Regions from separate parts of the Homo sapiens genome. Here regions 2 and 3 are each linked to region 1. Evidence: fine-mapped expression QTL. A gene starts in region 1. Each other region holds a variant in brackets. All regions are shown on one strand. Distances are from middle to middle.

The links. PIP is the estimated chance that this variant, and not a neighbour inherited with it, causes the effect. A credible set is the group of variants that fine-mapping cannot tell apart.
Region 2: its variant is the best candidate, but not a certain one, in a credible set for the expression of NUP54 in monocytes after LPS (Quach 2016, PIP 0.53).
Region 3: its variant is the best candidate, but not a certain one, in a credible set for the expression of NUP54 in whole blood (Lepik 2017, PIP 0.65).

What each region holds. Positions count from the first base shown.
Region 1 is chr4:76,145,712-76,150,982 of GRCh38, reverse strand. It overlaps NUP54 (nucleoporin 54), which reads left to right and starts at 2,586. Exons shown (of 12, transcript NM_017426.4): 1 at 2,586-2,675. The coding sequence starts at 2,609. It overlaps LOC124900718 (a long non-coding RNA gene), which reads right to left and starts at 2,434. Exons shown (of 2, transcript XR_007058144.1): 1 at 2,381-2,434; 2 at 1-1,776. RefSeq lists an enhancer at 2,477-2,636.
Region 2 is chr4:76,122,902-76,128,172 of GRCh38, reverse strand. NUP54 (nucleoporin 54) reads left to right here. Exons shown (of 12, transcript NM_017426.4): 9 at 3,417-3,524. Among named protein-coding and RNA genes, the nearest start is that of NUP54, 23 kb to the left of the region's middle. The variant C/T (reference allele first, on the strand shown) is at 2,542.
Region 3 is chr4:75,185,371-75,190,641 of GRCh38, reverse strand. No RefSeq gene overlaps it. Among named protein-coding and RNA genes, the nearest start is that of LINC02562, 100 kb to the right of the region's middle. The variant C/T (reference allele first, on the strand shown) is at 2,162.

The DNA of each region.
Region 1 (5,271 bases):
TCAGATGATTGTCTTTTCTTTGATACTGGTCATTTCACCCATAAAAAATTCTCCTATATCTTCCTGGAGGGCGAAGGCCTGGCTGCCAATGTTCTGGGAGCAGTAGGGGAAGGTGTGTATAGGCATGCATTTCCACTCAGTCTTCCACCATTCAGTAGGGCACTACCCACTCTCAATAATGTCTGGTGCCCCCAAGTCCAGAGACACTACTATTTTTTTTTTTTTTACACTGACGGGGGGTGGGGGGGAGTCCCCACTGTGTTGCCCAGGCTGGCTGAACTCCTAGGCTCAAGCAATCCTCCCACATCAGCTTTCCGAGTAGATGGGACTATAGGCTGGTGCCACTGTGCCTGGCAAATACTATTTTAATCACTGTAGAGAAGAATCCTCCATTATTTTTCTAGAGTGGGGAAGAAGCATTCACTTGGCTGCACGAGGTCAGAAGAGGATTTGGGGAGCTCTAACTGCTTCTTAAATAGACTTTCAACCAGTTCCTCTCATTTTAACTTCCCTTTACCCCAACTTATGAAGATACGTGATATCTCCAATTCCTGAGCTTCTGGCAGATTCCATAAATTAATCATTGGTTTTCCTTTCTGCTAGACTGGGAGGGCTGTTTGTTTTTTTAAGGTAAGCTGAGTACTTAGCCATTAGACAATGTGCTAAATCAGGGGTGTCCAATCTTTTGGCTTCCCTGGGCCACGCTGGAAGAAGAAGAATGGTTGTTTGTTTTTTTAAGGTAAGCTAAGTACTTAAGCGTTAGGCTATGTGCTAAATCAGGGGTGTCCAATCTTTTGGCTTCCTTGGGCCACACTGGAAGAAGAAGAATTGTCTTGGGCCACACATAAAATACACTAACAATAGCTGATGAGCTTTAAAAAAAATCGCAAAAAACCTCACAATGTTTCAATAAAGTTTACGAATTTGTGTTGGGCTGCATTCAAAGCCATCCTAAGCCATGAGCCACATGTGGCCTGTGGGCCGCAGCTGGACAAACTGCTGGTAAATCAAAGCTCCTTAACATGCTAAGGAAGGTCTTTCAAGATCTGGTTTCCACCTATCTGTCATTCATTCATTATTTATTTCCCCCTGTTATATGCCAGGCACTTGTGATGGGCATGGAACAAGAGGGACATGGTTCTTGCACTTATGGAATATATACTATTGTAAGGAAAAATTAGATTGATAAATTATCTGTGACAAACAGTGAAAGAAGGCAGGGCAGTGGGTATGAGAGCATACTCAGTTTGTAGGAGTCAGACACGGGTCCACCATTCACCAACTTGCCCAAGCCAGAAAGCAGGAGGTTGTCCTTGAATCCTTACTTCCCACGTCCAAATACTACGAGTCTCATATATGCTATTTCTTAAGTATCTCTCAAATTTATTCTCCTAATTCCACTGCCAGATGTAATCCAAGTCATTATCATCTCCTACCTGTGCAACTACAACAGACTCCTAAAAGCTCTATCTTCCTCAGGCATTCTGGCTCCTTCCAATCCATTCTCCTTATGGCAGCCAGAGGGATCTTCTAAAAACAAAATTCTAGTCATACTAGTCCTCTGCCTAAAACCCCTTAAAGGTTTCCCATTACCCTCAAGAAATAGTCTGAAATCCTTACCATAATTTACAAGGCAATATAATATAATGGTAATTTTTACAAATTGGGACTCTGGAGTGGAGAAACATGAGTCCAAAACCAGACTCCAGAACCTACCTGCAAGGTGACTTTGGGCAAGCTGCTTAACAACTCCAAACCTCAATTCTCTCATCTCACCTGCAAAATACAGTTACAGAATCTTCTCTATTTATTTATTCTGAGGATTAAATTATATTACAAGTACAACAGAGGGGGCCCACTCTTCCCCTCTTTTTCAGTGCTCCCCTTAGAGCTGTGGTTAGGAGTATTTACTCTGTAAACAGCCTGACCCTTTGGTACCTGTTTCCTCTTTTATAAATTGGAGATAGCAGCAACCCACCTCATAAGATAGCTGATTAAATTATGTAAAATGTCTAGAAGAGTGCCTGGCACATAGTAAACGCAACGTGTTTGCTACAATTCCATTCGCTTTCATTTCTTCCAACGTGCATCCTCTTTACTGCTTCTGCTCCGTCTACTCATCCTTCAGCACTGGGTTCAAATACCACCTCCTCGTGGGTGTTGGGGGGGTTCTCAACCCCAGCCCTGCTGCCCGACCTCCCAGGCCCGCTAGTTGATGAGGCAGCAACTTCAACCCTACCACATACAAATTCTAGCTGTCTACCGCGTATCCCTACAGTAACAACTTCAGCCTCTGCACACCTTTCCCAAAGAACCTCCCTACGGCAGTTTTTAAAGGACTCTCAGGCGGCACACCCTCGCGAGCGTCCCAGCATTTTACCTTAACAGTGACACCCCACAGCATGTGAAGCCCACCGGAAGTGAGCTGGCTGGGGGCGTTCCCTCACAACCACCCACCTCCTACGCCCTTGGCGCCTTCCGGCCTCTTAGGCTAGGTCAGAAAGGAGGCGGAACTCGGTGATCTGACTGGCGGTTTCCCGGCCGGACTGAGAAGGGGAGCGCGCTGCGCGTCGCAGGAGTAACCTACTTGGTCTCCTGCTTTCGCGACATGGCCTTCAATTTTGGGGCTCCCTCGGGCACCTCCGGTACCGCTGCAGCCACCGCGGCCCCCGCGGGTGAGTGATCCCCCTAGACCTTCACCCGGGAAGAAGGGGAAGGGTCTGGTCCGCCCCCTCTGTCCGAGACTCTCCGACCTGGGGATCCTGGAATCTCCCGCCGACGCGGAGACTTTAGAGGCATTGGAAAAGGGCGGGCGGCGGCAGAGTGGGCCGAGGCGGCACCCGAGGAGGCCACGGGGGTACTCGGGGTCCCACTAGAAGCTCGCTTGCCGCGCGTGAGTTTCCACAGGGCCCTGGCTTGAGCGGTTCGCTTCCCGCTGCCGGGGAGTCCTACTCAGAGAAATTGGAGGTTGCTTCCCTCTCCCCTTGCCCGAGAACCTCCCTCCCCTCTGCACCTCAGCCTCCTGGATGGGCGGGAACGCTTGCGTGGTTCCCGCTGCCGGACTCGGCGAGGATAGGGCTGGGGATCCACCGGCACTGCCCATTGACTCCCTTAGTTCCACCCCCGGCCCCCTGTGGTCCTCGCTGTGGGGTTTATCCGTCATGCTTCTTCCATCTGCCCCACCCCACCCCCACTCTGCTTTCTTAAACTGTTTGGAGCAAAACCAGGTTTGTTCACTTCTGTGAAACCTCCTGCTGATTCTTCTAATCCTTATCTTGCTTTCTTTTCTTTTTCCCTCTCCCCCTTTTTAAAATTTTGTTTCTTTGCCTACACGCCTATCAGGATTTGGTGGGCTTGAGACTGCCAACTCCACCGCCAGTGGGTTTAATTTTGGGGGTTTCGGATTAACTGCTAATCCTGCAGTGAACTTTAATATTGGGAATTTCGGTGTTTCTACTACCTCGGCGACTCCGTTCAATTTTGGTAACAGTCTGGCAAGTGCAGGTAGATACTGCGGGTTGTATGTGTAACCAGTGTTGGGAGCTGGAGTCCAAGAATATTGTGGTTCCTGGAGTTTGGGAAAGAACAGTTACTTGTCTAATAGGGAAAGGAAATTTATTTCCTTATCTCGAATCAAAAACATCTGTATCAAGTTTTTACTGCCTTAAAAGATGTGGTTTAGGAAAGTTTTGCAAGTTACAGTGTTCCTTTATTAAATGTGCACTTATCTTCCAAATGATAAGCATTTGGATTATAATTTTGAATAGATCTTTAAAATTATTAGGTAGGACTTCCAAAGTATAAACTCACCACCAGTCAAGCCCATCCTGGGATTCTTGGACTCCTGCAGTCATTTTTCATTTTTTCTGCATCTTTCATTGAGATTTCATTTTATTGTCCTTGTGTTTCCAAAGAGAAACAAGTCTTATACGAACAGCAGTAACCTGTTTTGTTTTTTAACTTGTGTTATAATGATAATAATGTATTTCTTTGGTCAACTCAGCAGATTAGGATACTATAAGATGTGTAATTTCTATAAGATTTGTAATTATAGAAAGAATCCCCAGTTCTTTGCTGGAATTTTGGGAAATGCTCAAAGAGAGCAGTTTAGTTTTATGTGATATAGCATCGAATTCTAAAAGGTAAGCTAGACGTCTTTGCATTCAAAAAGATAATTATGAAGATTTTCATATGCACGTGGGTTGTTTGCAGCTCATTAGAAATTTTGCAAAACAATAATGATATATACATTTAAAATAGGTTTATGGGTACTTTACATAGTGACACTGTAGAAAAAAACTTGTTCTTCAGCTGCTCGTATATGAATTTATCGTCCATAGTCTCTTACGTTATGCCTCTTGTGCCCATGCCAATTATATGCATTTGATAAACATTATTTACTCCCTAAAAGTTAATTGGGAAGTTTGTTATTTTGTTCATTCACTGGTTACTGCAATGTGATTATCACCCTAGCATCTGAGTTGAAAACAGTTCGAAGAATATTTGAAAACTTCAAAGACAAGATGATGCATTTTAATTAAGATGTATTCGAAGTAATCACATATCACTGTCCTTTGATGTGTTTACTTTTCCTTGTTTGCTTAAAATTGGCACTGGGTAAAACAGAAATCTTACTTTGAAATTTGTGTTTCTGAATAAAGCCACCCAGCTCATAATTCAACAACAATAAATAAACTTGTTGGTATTTGCTTGATTTCATGTTCATTTGGAGTTATCACTGTTAAGTTTTGAGTTATGATAATGTAATATGTTTTAACTACTTTTATATGTGTTAACCTTCAGCAAAGGGCTGATAGACTTTCTTGTTTACTTTTTATTTTGTATACTTGCAGATCTGCTATTACTAAAACATTTTTGATGTTGTGGAGCATGATGAGAAACTGACTAGTGTTTCTATTGCGTAGCCAATTCAGATTATATCATAGTTATTCTATGGAAGTGAAGAATAATGAAAAGAAATTACAACAGTGCTTAGTACTGTGGGTGACTTTTATGAAAATGTTTATAGTTTGCAGTACTGCAGTAGAACCTACAAGTAAATAGAATATTTAGTTGTGCCTGCATGCAACATGCAGCTTACTCTTGAGTAGTTTTCCAAATCAGAATGAGGTGATTAATATAAAATGGTTGCATGTTTTTCTTCTTGTATTTTCTATATTGCAATATTGATGAATCTGTGTTGTATACCAGAAATAAATGAGATTAAAGGAAGATTCCAAAAAATCTGCAATATAATTCGACACTAATGGT
Region 2 (5,271 bases), 23 kb after region 1:
AGTGCTGAAGTTGAGAAACCTTTCTCTAGGTAATACGATGTATCTCCTCCCACTATAACTAGCAGACTTCCCTTGGAGCTCCCTTTCAGCATTTATGCTCATTTCCAGGTTTGAGGCTGGGTTGAAACCAGACTAGGGACGCCTGAGGGGAAAAATGGGTAAACTCACCACAAGTTTATTGGTACTTTAAATTCCTATCTTACCTGATCTTCCTGCCAGAGTTCCCAAATAGCTGCCCCGTGTATTCCATCCAAGTTTTATAGCTATATTAAATGGGAGAGATTGGGGTTGTATATGCTTAGTCCATCTTGTCCAGAACTGAAATCATTCATATCTTTGGCCAGTGTTTCCACTGGGCTTCCTATTTTTTCTTTATTGAACTTCAGTAATCATTTACTCTAGATTGTAGTCTCTGTTTATAACGTTGTAAATATCTTCTAGTTTCTCATCTCTTTGTTAATTCTGTCTTTGGTGTCTGTAGTTGAAGAGAAATCCTTAATTTTAATGTAATGATATCCATTAAATGTTTGCCTTGTATTTTCTTTTTGGGAATTTGCTTAAATAATTTTTCACCCCAAAGTCTGAGAGTATCCTACATTAAAAAAAATTTAGAGTTTAACCTTTCACGTTTGAGTCTTTTGTTGTCATCATGAAGTTTACCTTTATATAAAGTATGTGGTATGAACTCAGATTTATTTTTCTCTAAATAGTGGGTCCATTTTTTTTTTTTTTTTTTTTTTGAGATGGGGGTCTCGTTCTGTCGCCCAGGCTGGAGTGCAGTGGCGCAATCTCGGCTCACTGCAAGCTCCGCCTCCTGGGTTCACGCCATTGTTCTGCCTCAGCCTCCCAAGTAGCTAGGACTACAGGCGCCCACCACCACGCCTGGCTAATTTTTTGTATTTTTAGTAGAAATGGGGTTTCACCGTGTTAGCCAGGATGGTCTCGATCTCCTGACCTCGTGATCCACCCGTCTTGGCCTCCCAAAGTGCTGGGATTACAGGCGTGAGCCACTGCGCCCAGCCCTATATTTTTAATATTGCCTATAAAAATATGATATTCCTCAATGATTATCAAAGAATTTAAATTACACTGTTTGCATATATATATGTGATCTATTTCTAGACCCTCTCTTATGTTTCATTGGCCAGTTGGTCTGTTCTTATACCCACCCATTCCACATTTTTTTAGTCTTATGGCTTTGTAGTGTATCTTAATATCTAGTAGCATGAATCTCTAATCTTGGTTCTTCTTTTCAAAGTTTTCTGGGTCTTTATGGGTCTTTATTCTTCCATAAAAACTTTAGAATCAATTTGTCAGAATGCTAGAATTATGGTTGGAATTGCATTAAATGCAAAGACTAATTTGTGGGAATTGAATTTTAATATTAAATCATTTCATCCATGAATGTGGTATGTCTCTTTAATCCTTGCAGTCTTTTATGTCCTTTAAAATAATTTTAAAATATTCCCTTTTAAAATCTCATGCGTTCTTTCTTGGATCAATTCCTAGATGGCTTTCTTGGATCAATTCCTAGATGGTTTTAGTATTTGTTAATAAATACTGTGGCTGATAACATGTCTAATTTTTTTAGTTATTACTGGTAGAAAATAATGTTGTAAGTACTCTTGTATCTAAAAACCCTGGTGATTTTTCAAAATTGGGATGGGGAGATTGCCTAGGTTTTGTAATATAAAACATGGCCACCTAATTTTGTCCTTTCAGCATGGCCTGGCATTGGAAAGTTTCTGTAAAAGGTGATGTGTGCAGGTGGATGTGCTAAAATATGTCTTGCACAATCTTAACCTCTTTCTTGTAACATGTAAATGTAAGCCAGTGGCATAGAATGATTAATTATGATAGAGACAATTATGGGATTAATTCTGATTGGGATGCTTTAATAAAATAGTGAGATTTTAACCTACCCTGTAAGGTTAAGACTTCCTAAGGCAGAATAGTGGGATTTCAGTCAGGTAAAACAGCAAGTCAAAGATCCAGAGGCATAAAAATGTATCCTGCTGCATAATTAATATCATTCCTTTTCCTCTGCACTCTGATTACTCCCTCCAAGTATTCTGTAACAGTTAATGTTGAAATGTACTGTACTTGCTGTCAGTAGTTAGATACAGGGCTAATTGTCTATTAAGACACCCCCTAGATATCATCTTACACATCTTAACTTTTTCCACTCAGACCTGGTTGTTGGCTGTATTCCATGTTACTTCAGATTCCTTAATTATTTCTGAAGTATGTGTTTTCTTTTTTTCCTTTTGAGATAGGTCTCTCCCTCTCTCTCTGTCTCTCTCTCTCCCTCCCCCTCCCCCTCTCTCCCTCTCTCCCTCTCTCCCCCTTTCTCCCTCTTCTCCCTCTCTCTCCCTCTCCCTCTCTCCCCCTCTCTCCCTCTCTCCCCCTCTCCCCCTCTCCCCCTCTCTCCCTCTTCTCCCTCTCTCTCCCCCTCTCTCCCTCTTCTCCCTCTTCTCCCTCTCTCCCTCTCCCTCTCTCCCTCTCTCCCCCTCTCTCCCTCTCCCCCTCTCCCCCTCTCCC[C/T]CTCTCCCTCTCCCTCTTGCCCATGCTGGAGTGCAGTGGCATGATCACGGCTCACTGCAACCTCAAACTCCTGGGCTCAAGTGATCCTCCCACCTCAGCCTCCTAAGGAGCTGGGATTACAGGCATGTAGCACTACACCTGGTTAATTTTTTATATTTTTTGTAGAGACAAGGTCTTGCCATTTTGCCCAAGCTTGTCTCAAAATCCTGGTCTCAAGCACTCCTCTTGCCTTGGCCTCCCAAAGTGCTAGGATTACAGGAGTGACCCACTGTGCCCAGCCGTGTGTGTGTGTGTGTGTGTGTGTGTGTGTGTGTGATGGAGTCTCACTCTGTTTTTTGTTTTTTGTTTCTGTGAGATGGAGTTTCACTCTGTTGCCCAGGCTGGAGTGCAGTGGCACGATCTCGGCTCCATCCCCCAGGTTTAAGTGATTCTCCTGCATCAGCCTTCCAAGTAGCTGGGATTACAGGTGCATGCCACCACACCCAGCTACTTCTTTGTATTTTTAGTAGAGACGGGGTTTCACTATGTTGGCCAGGCTGGTCTTGAACTCCTGACCTTAAGTAATTTGCCTGCCTCGTCCTCCCAAAGTGGTGGGATTACAGGTGTGAGCCACCACGCCCAGCTTATTTTTTCTATGTATTGCCTCATTGCTAAATTTCCTAGAGCTCTAAAGATATCTTTGCATGATTCTTTTAAAAAAATTTTAGGTATGTAAAAAGGGAAGAAATATAAAGCACAGATTTATAGGGAAAGAGTTTATATTTTGAGAGATGAATCTCAGGCTTATCCCAAGATTAGAATTTCCATACAGGTGTAACTGATAAATAGTTGTGATATTTGATTAACCCTCCCCCCCCCAATTTTTTTTTAAACAGATCATATCTGAAGATATTAGTGAGCTACAAAAGAATCAAACTACATCTGTAGCCAAAATTGCACAATACAAGAGGAAACTCATGGATCTTTCCCATAGAACTTTACAGGTAGTAATTTGGATTTTCCCCCCCAGTGTTTATAAGACTATGTGTGTGAAATAATGTACTAAATATAGATTTTTAAAATAGAAAAAAAAATACTAAAATGAAAGAATAATGTGAAATTACAAGTACCGAATTCTTTCAGTAAAACTTTGAAATTGGAAAACAAGTCTCATAGGTTTGAGTGAGGAGAATAAAAATATCCTAAAGTTCGTATTTTAGTGACAGTTTGAGGGAAAGCAGTGAAGAAATAAAGCATCTTAGTGCAAGGGAAGCTTCTGTGAGATTATTGATGTCTCATAAATTTCATAAAATAGTTTCATAAAATAGTTCAGAAAATTTTTTGAGTGCTAGAAAAAGGAGTGTAACCATAATGGTCGAAAAACAATAGAATTTCCAAATTAACAGGAGGAATTAAAAGAATAATAACAACTGAAATTATAAACTATCATGAAAACAGAAATATTACATACCAGAACCAGTGGGAAACAGCAAAATCTGTACTCAGAGGAAAACTTACAGCCATAAAAAATTCTCATTTAAAAAAATCAAATGTGAAAAATAAAGGAACTTAGTACTCATGTTAAATTAGAAAAGGAATATCAAGATAAGCCAAAAGAAACTAAAAAGAAAGAAAGATAAATGTGAAATTAGTGAAAGACTAAAAAATGTAATAGTGGAAAGAATAAATTAAAAAACTGTTTCTTTGAAAAGACCGTTAAAATTACTAAGCATCTCATCAGCTGGAAGAAGGGAAAAACAGAGTAAAATATACAAAATTAGTAGTGGGAAAAGAGGCATCACCGTAGATATACAAAACAGAATAAGAAGATACTGCATGGGCCGGGCACAGTGTCTCACTCTTGTAATCCTAGAACTTTGGGAGGCCGAGGTGAGTGGATTGCCTGAGCTCAGGAGTTCAAGACCAGCCTGGGCAACACGGTGAAACCCCATCTCTACTAAAATACAAAAAAATCAGCCAGGCATGGTTGCTTGTGCCTGTAGTTCCAGTTACTTGGGAGGCTGAGGCACGAGAATTGCTTGAACCTGGGAGGCGGAGGTTGCAGTGAGCCGAGATCACGCCACTGCACTCCAGCCTAGGCTACAGAGCAAGACTCCATCTCAGAAAAAAGGAGAAAAAAAAAAGAAGATGCTGCATGTACTTTAGGGTAACAGATTTGGAACTCAGAGGAAGTTTTATTTTGATTTTTCTATGAAAATGAAAATTACCAAAATCTACAGAGAAGTAAGAAAACAAATACCACAGAAACAGTTGGAAAAATGAAAGATGAAACATGAAAAAGGCCTTAGGGACAGATAGTTTCATTGCCAAATTTTGTCTAACCACAAAAGAGCTAATCCAGTGTTATTTTGATTATTCTAGACAATTGAGGAATAATTTATACAGCTTCATTTGTTCTTTTTTCACAGCTTAAGATAATTTGCATACCATACTATTTACTCATTTAAAGTGTACAATTCAATGGCTTTTAGTATATTCAGAGACTTGTATAACCGTTATTACCACAATCAATTTTAGAACATTTCTGTCACCCTACAGACAAATCCCGTACCCATTGTCAGTCACTTCCCCGTTTCACTGCAAATCTGTCAGTCCTATGCAACCAGTTTTGCCTATATGGGTTTGCCTGTTCTGGAAACCTCATATAAATGGAATCATAACGATATATGGTCTTTTGTGACTGGCTTTTACTTAGCATAATGTTTTCAAAGTTCAACTGTGTTGTACCAT
Region 3 (5,271 bases), 960 kb after region 1:
TGACCCCAGCCGAAAATCTAAGACAAGGAACATGTTGCAATCAGATATTGATTTTGAAGGATTATGGCATTATCTGTTCTTATCATAAATAGGTAAAACAAAATCCTCACTGATATTTGTGGGAGTTGAGATGGGACAAAAACTCTCACCCGGGGTCTTCTTTCAATTTTTCTCTAGCACAGGAACGTTCTTAAATGCAGAGTCATGTTAAGTTTCCCTTTCACTCTTTTCTCCTAAAAATCATTTTAGTTTCACAGCCATTTTCCTGTATCCCTAGTATTTTGCAAGATCGGTATGTCCTAAGTAGACTTTAAGTTTGAAAAGGCAGTTGTTTATAATGCTGGAAATAAATTTGCACTTTGAAATTAGAAACCCTGGTGTGCTGATTGTGACAAACCATTGATGATCTCCAGCAGAGGCTCTGCAGAGCCCATTACTGCACAGCCTGGAGCAGGAGGAGCCTTTGCGTGGCAAGGGAAGGAGCTTTGCACCAGTAGCCTCTGTCTATGGGAGGTGTTCCTGTCTAAAGGCCAGAGAGTTAGGATCCTTGAGAGAGTCTGAGTGTAAAATAGAGATTATACTTAATGTAACTTTGAAATTCTTAAATACTCTATAAGAATCCAACTCCCATTCAGAATATTTGAAATGATCCCTTTCTCTCTGAATCTGGATGTTGGAATGCTTCCCAGATAAATTTGTTGCCTATTTTGGGTTTGATGTTCTCTCTTGCTATCACTGCCAGAAGTGTTTTCGGGGCTCAGATTCTGAGGTTTCACTCCCGTGATGCCTGGATTGTAAGACAGTGGGATTTTCTGCTCACAGGGCTTGGTAATGTTAGGGAGATTTTTTTTCTCCGGGTTTTTGGTAGGAAAAATGCAGTGAAATTGTACTGCTGCTGCCTGCCCTTAATCCATAAAAGCAATCAACTCATTTTTTGTGTGTGGCCATTTTGACAAAGCTACTGTAACCCATGGGAAATTCTGGTTTGGCCTAAAATGAAACCATGAAATGTTTAGACATTTTTTTTTCTCCATTCCTCAATCCTATTCAAATCCTAGGTCTTTTACCTATTCACTTTATCCTGTCACCTCCATAGGCTATCATGGAAAAAATTTGCATACAGTATTGGTTAATATTTTTAAAATTTATTTTTTTGACTTGCCTAGTTGTGTAGGAGCAATATATCTGTATTAAATGTTCTATTTCCATTTTTGTTCCAGATTGCAGTCTCTCCCAGGTTTGTGCAGGGAAAGCTAGCTGCCTTTTTAAAGAACTGTCAGCAAAGCCAGAGTCTGTCTGAGATGCTCAGCAAGAGCTGGAATTTCATAGCTTCCCACATGAGACCAGACCCTCAGAGAAGGTGGAGCAATGTCAGGAGCAAGAAGTAGACAAAGAAATTTTGACTTTGGAGAGATCAAGAAAGCTGTTCATCAGTGTTGGTGATGGGAACTTGGGGGTTGACAAGAGGAGTTTAGACTATTTCTTTTCTTCATCCTCATCATTCCTATGGATTTTGTTAAAAATGGTGTGTAATTTGAGAAATAAAGCATTCCTTGTTTCCTCATTTGATGAGCCACCTCTGATTCCTGGACAGAAAAGGGACCACAAAAAGTGAACCATCCGTAGACCACATTTATGTTCTGGATTTGCTTTTGAAAGATAATCACACAGTATTGTGAACCTTCCCTTGCTGCTTTGGGGAAGAATCAGAGAGGAAAGAGTTGAGAGATCTCTACTTTCTTCAGGTGGTGATAGCTCTCAAAAGGGTGGAGGCTGAGCAATATATAGTGTGATGTTTTCACCCTAAAAAGTTAGGGTTTAGTTTAGTTTTCCTGCCCCCCCCTTGATTGTTCTTCAAATTAAGTCAGTAAGTGAGTATAGACAAATAAGCAAAAGTGTCTTGATTTTCATGGAAAGAAAATTTTATTATTTTAACTATTTTACAATGAAAAGTTCAAGTTAACTCTCCTTGTACTGTTCATCCTGATTCTCCTCTTTCCAGATTTTCAGTGTAAGGAGTATAGGCTTGAGCCTTTTATCACTAGTCATGGAAAACAATCCTCCCTCAGGGACATCATTGCTATGGGAGGGAGAATGTGTGACAGAGAAGAGCTTCTATGTCCAGACTAAATCCCATCTGGGACATATCCAGGCCTCACCC[C/T]GACCCTTGGACAGAGAAATGGGCATTTAATAGAGCTCATATATGGAAGAATGAAAGGACTAATGTAAGTTCAAAATCAATGAAAGTAGATCAAAATTCAGCAGGAGTTCAACCTAAGTCCTCTCTTTTGCTTACAACTTTTAAAATGAGCTTTTCCTCATTATGAAGAGTGGACATAAAGTAGCCTCTTGCCTTTATGGCTCACAGACAGAATCCATAATCAGATTATACTATCAAATTGTAAAATAGTAATTTTTAATCAGTTTTTACAATATATCTGTCCATGAGATTTTAATCTTTTCGCCTTCCCCTTCCAACACATCATTAAAATGAGACCATTGAGATTCCTCTATCCTTGTAGAAATACCAGCTTGGGTCAGTTTTAATCATAGACCGATGGTATATTTACAGAGAAACAACAAGGTCAAGAATCAACTGTGTTCTAGTTCCAGAACCTGGATTTTCTTTCTTTCTTTTTTAGATTTTAATTTTGTGGGTATATTGTAGGTGTATTGAACCTGGATTTTCATGGTGAGACTTTTCTTTTTAAAAAATAACACATTATTATTTATGAAACTAAAGAACTAAAAAGCATGCTCAACAACAACAACCACACAAAATTGGAAAAAGAAAACAGAAGGACACAACAAAAAATCTCTCCAGGGAAATTTTTGTAGGATGGCTTATTTTGAACATAGTGCCGTGTTACAGCTCCTAGATACCCGCAGGAAGTGCAGGGCAGTTTGGAGGCAGATTCAGTGGTAGGAGGGAGGAATTCCGTTCTTCTTGATTCTTTTTTTAAAATTTCAATAATTTTTTTAGGGAATAGATGGTGTTTGGTTACATGAGTAAGTTCTTTAGTGAGGATTTCTGAGGTTTTGGTGCACCCATCCCCCAAGCGGTGTACACTGTACCCAATGTGTAGTCTTTTATCCCTCACCCACCTCACACCCTTTCCCTCAAGTCCGCAAAGTCCATTGTATCATCCTTACGCCTTTGCATCCTCAAAGCTTAGCTCCCACTTATGAATGATAACATACGATGTGTGATTTTCCATTCCTGAATTTCTTCACTTAGAATAATGGTCTTCGATTTCATCCAGGTTGCTGTGAATGCCATTATTTCATTCTTTTTATATATATATGTGTGTATATATATATACACACATATCTGTGTGTATATATATATACACACAGATATGTGTATATATATATACACACAGATATGTATATATATATACACACACGGATATGTATATATATATACACACACGGATATGTATATATATATACACACGGATATGTATATATATATACACACGGATATGTATATATATATACACATAGATATGTATATATATATACACATAGATATGTATATATATATATACACATAGATATGTATATATATATATACACATAGATATGTATATATATATATACACATAGATATGTATATATATCACAATTTTCTTATCTACTTGTTGATTTATGGACATTTGGGCTGGTTCTATATTTTTTGCAATTGTGAATTGTGCTGCTATAAACATGCATGTGCAAGTGTCTTTTCATATAATGACTTCTTTTCCTCTAGGTAGATACCCAGTAGTGGACTGCTGGATCAAATGGTAGTTCTACTTTTAGTTCTTTAAGGAATCTCCACAGTGTTTTGCATAGTGACTGTAGCAGTTTACATTCCCACCAGCAGTGTAATAGTGTTCCCATTTTTACCACATCCATGCCAACATTTATTATCTTTTGATTTGTTTATTATGGCCATTCTTTTTTTTTTTTTTTTTTGAGACTGAGTTTCGCTCTGTCGCCCAGGCTGGAGTGCAATGGCACAATCTCGGCTCATGGCAAGCTCCGCCTCCCGGGTTCACGCCATTCTCCTGCCTCAGCCTCCCAAGTAGCTGGGACTACAGGTGCCCACCACCACACCCGGCTAATTTTTTGTATTTTTAGTAGAGATGGGGTTTCACCGTGTTAGCCAGGATGGTCTTGATCTCCTGACCTCGTGATCCACCTGCCTTGGCCTCCCAAAGTGCTGGGATTACAGGCATGAGCTACCTCGCCCGGTCCGATTATGGCCATTTTTGCAGGAGTAAGGTGGTATCACATTGTGGTTTTGATTGGCATTTCCCTTATAATTACTGATTAAGAGCATTTTTTCATATGTTTGGTGGCCATTTGTCTATCTTCTTTTGAGAATTGTCTATTCATGTCCTTAGCCCACTTTTTGATGGAATTGTTTGTTTTTTTCTTGCTGATTTGTTTGAGTTCCTTGTAAATTATTGTTATTAGTCCTTTGTCAGATTTATCAATCGCAAAATTTTTCTCCCACTTTGTGGGTTGTCTGTTTATTCTGCTGATTGTATTTTTTCTGTGCAGAAGCTTTTTAGCTTAGTTAAGTCTCATCTGTTTATCTTTGTTTTTATTGCATTTGCTTTTGGGTTCTTGGTCATGAAGTCTTTGCCTAAGCCAATGTCTAGAAGGGTTTTTATAATGTTATCTTCTGGAATTTTTATGGTTTCAGGTTTTAGATTTAAGTCTTTGGTCCATCTTGAATTGATTTTCATATAAGGTGGGAGATGAGGACCCAGTTTCCTTCTTCTACATGTGGCTTGCCAACTATCCCAGCACTATTTGTTGAATAGGGTATCCTTTTCCCAATTTTTGGTGGCTTTGTCAAAGATTAGTGGGCTGTAAATATTTGGCTTTATCGTTGGGTTCTCTATTTTGTTCCATTGGTTTATGTGTCTATTTTTATAACAGTGTCATGCTGTTTTGCTGACTATAGCCTTGTAGAATAAAGTCAGGTAATGTGATGCTTCAAGGTTTGTTCTCTTTGCTGAGTCTTGCTTTGGCTCTGTGGGCTCTTTCTTGGTTCCATATGAATTTTAGGATTGGTTTTTCTAGTTCTGTGAAGAATAACAGTGATATTTTGATGGAAATTGCATAAATTTGTAGATTGCTTTTGGCAGTACAGTCGTTTTCACCATATTGATTCTACCCATCCATGAGCATGGGATGTGTTTCCATTTGTTTCTGTCATCTATGATTTCTTTCAGCAGTGTTTTGTAGTTTTCCTTATAGAGGTCTTTCACCTCC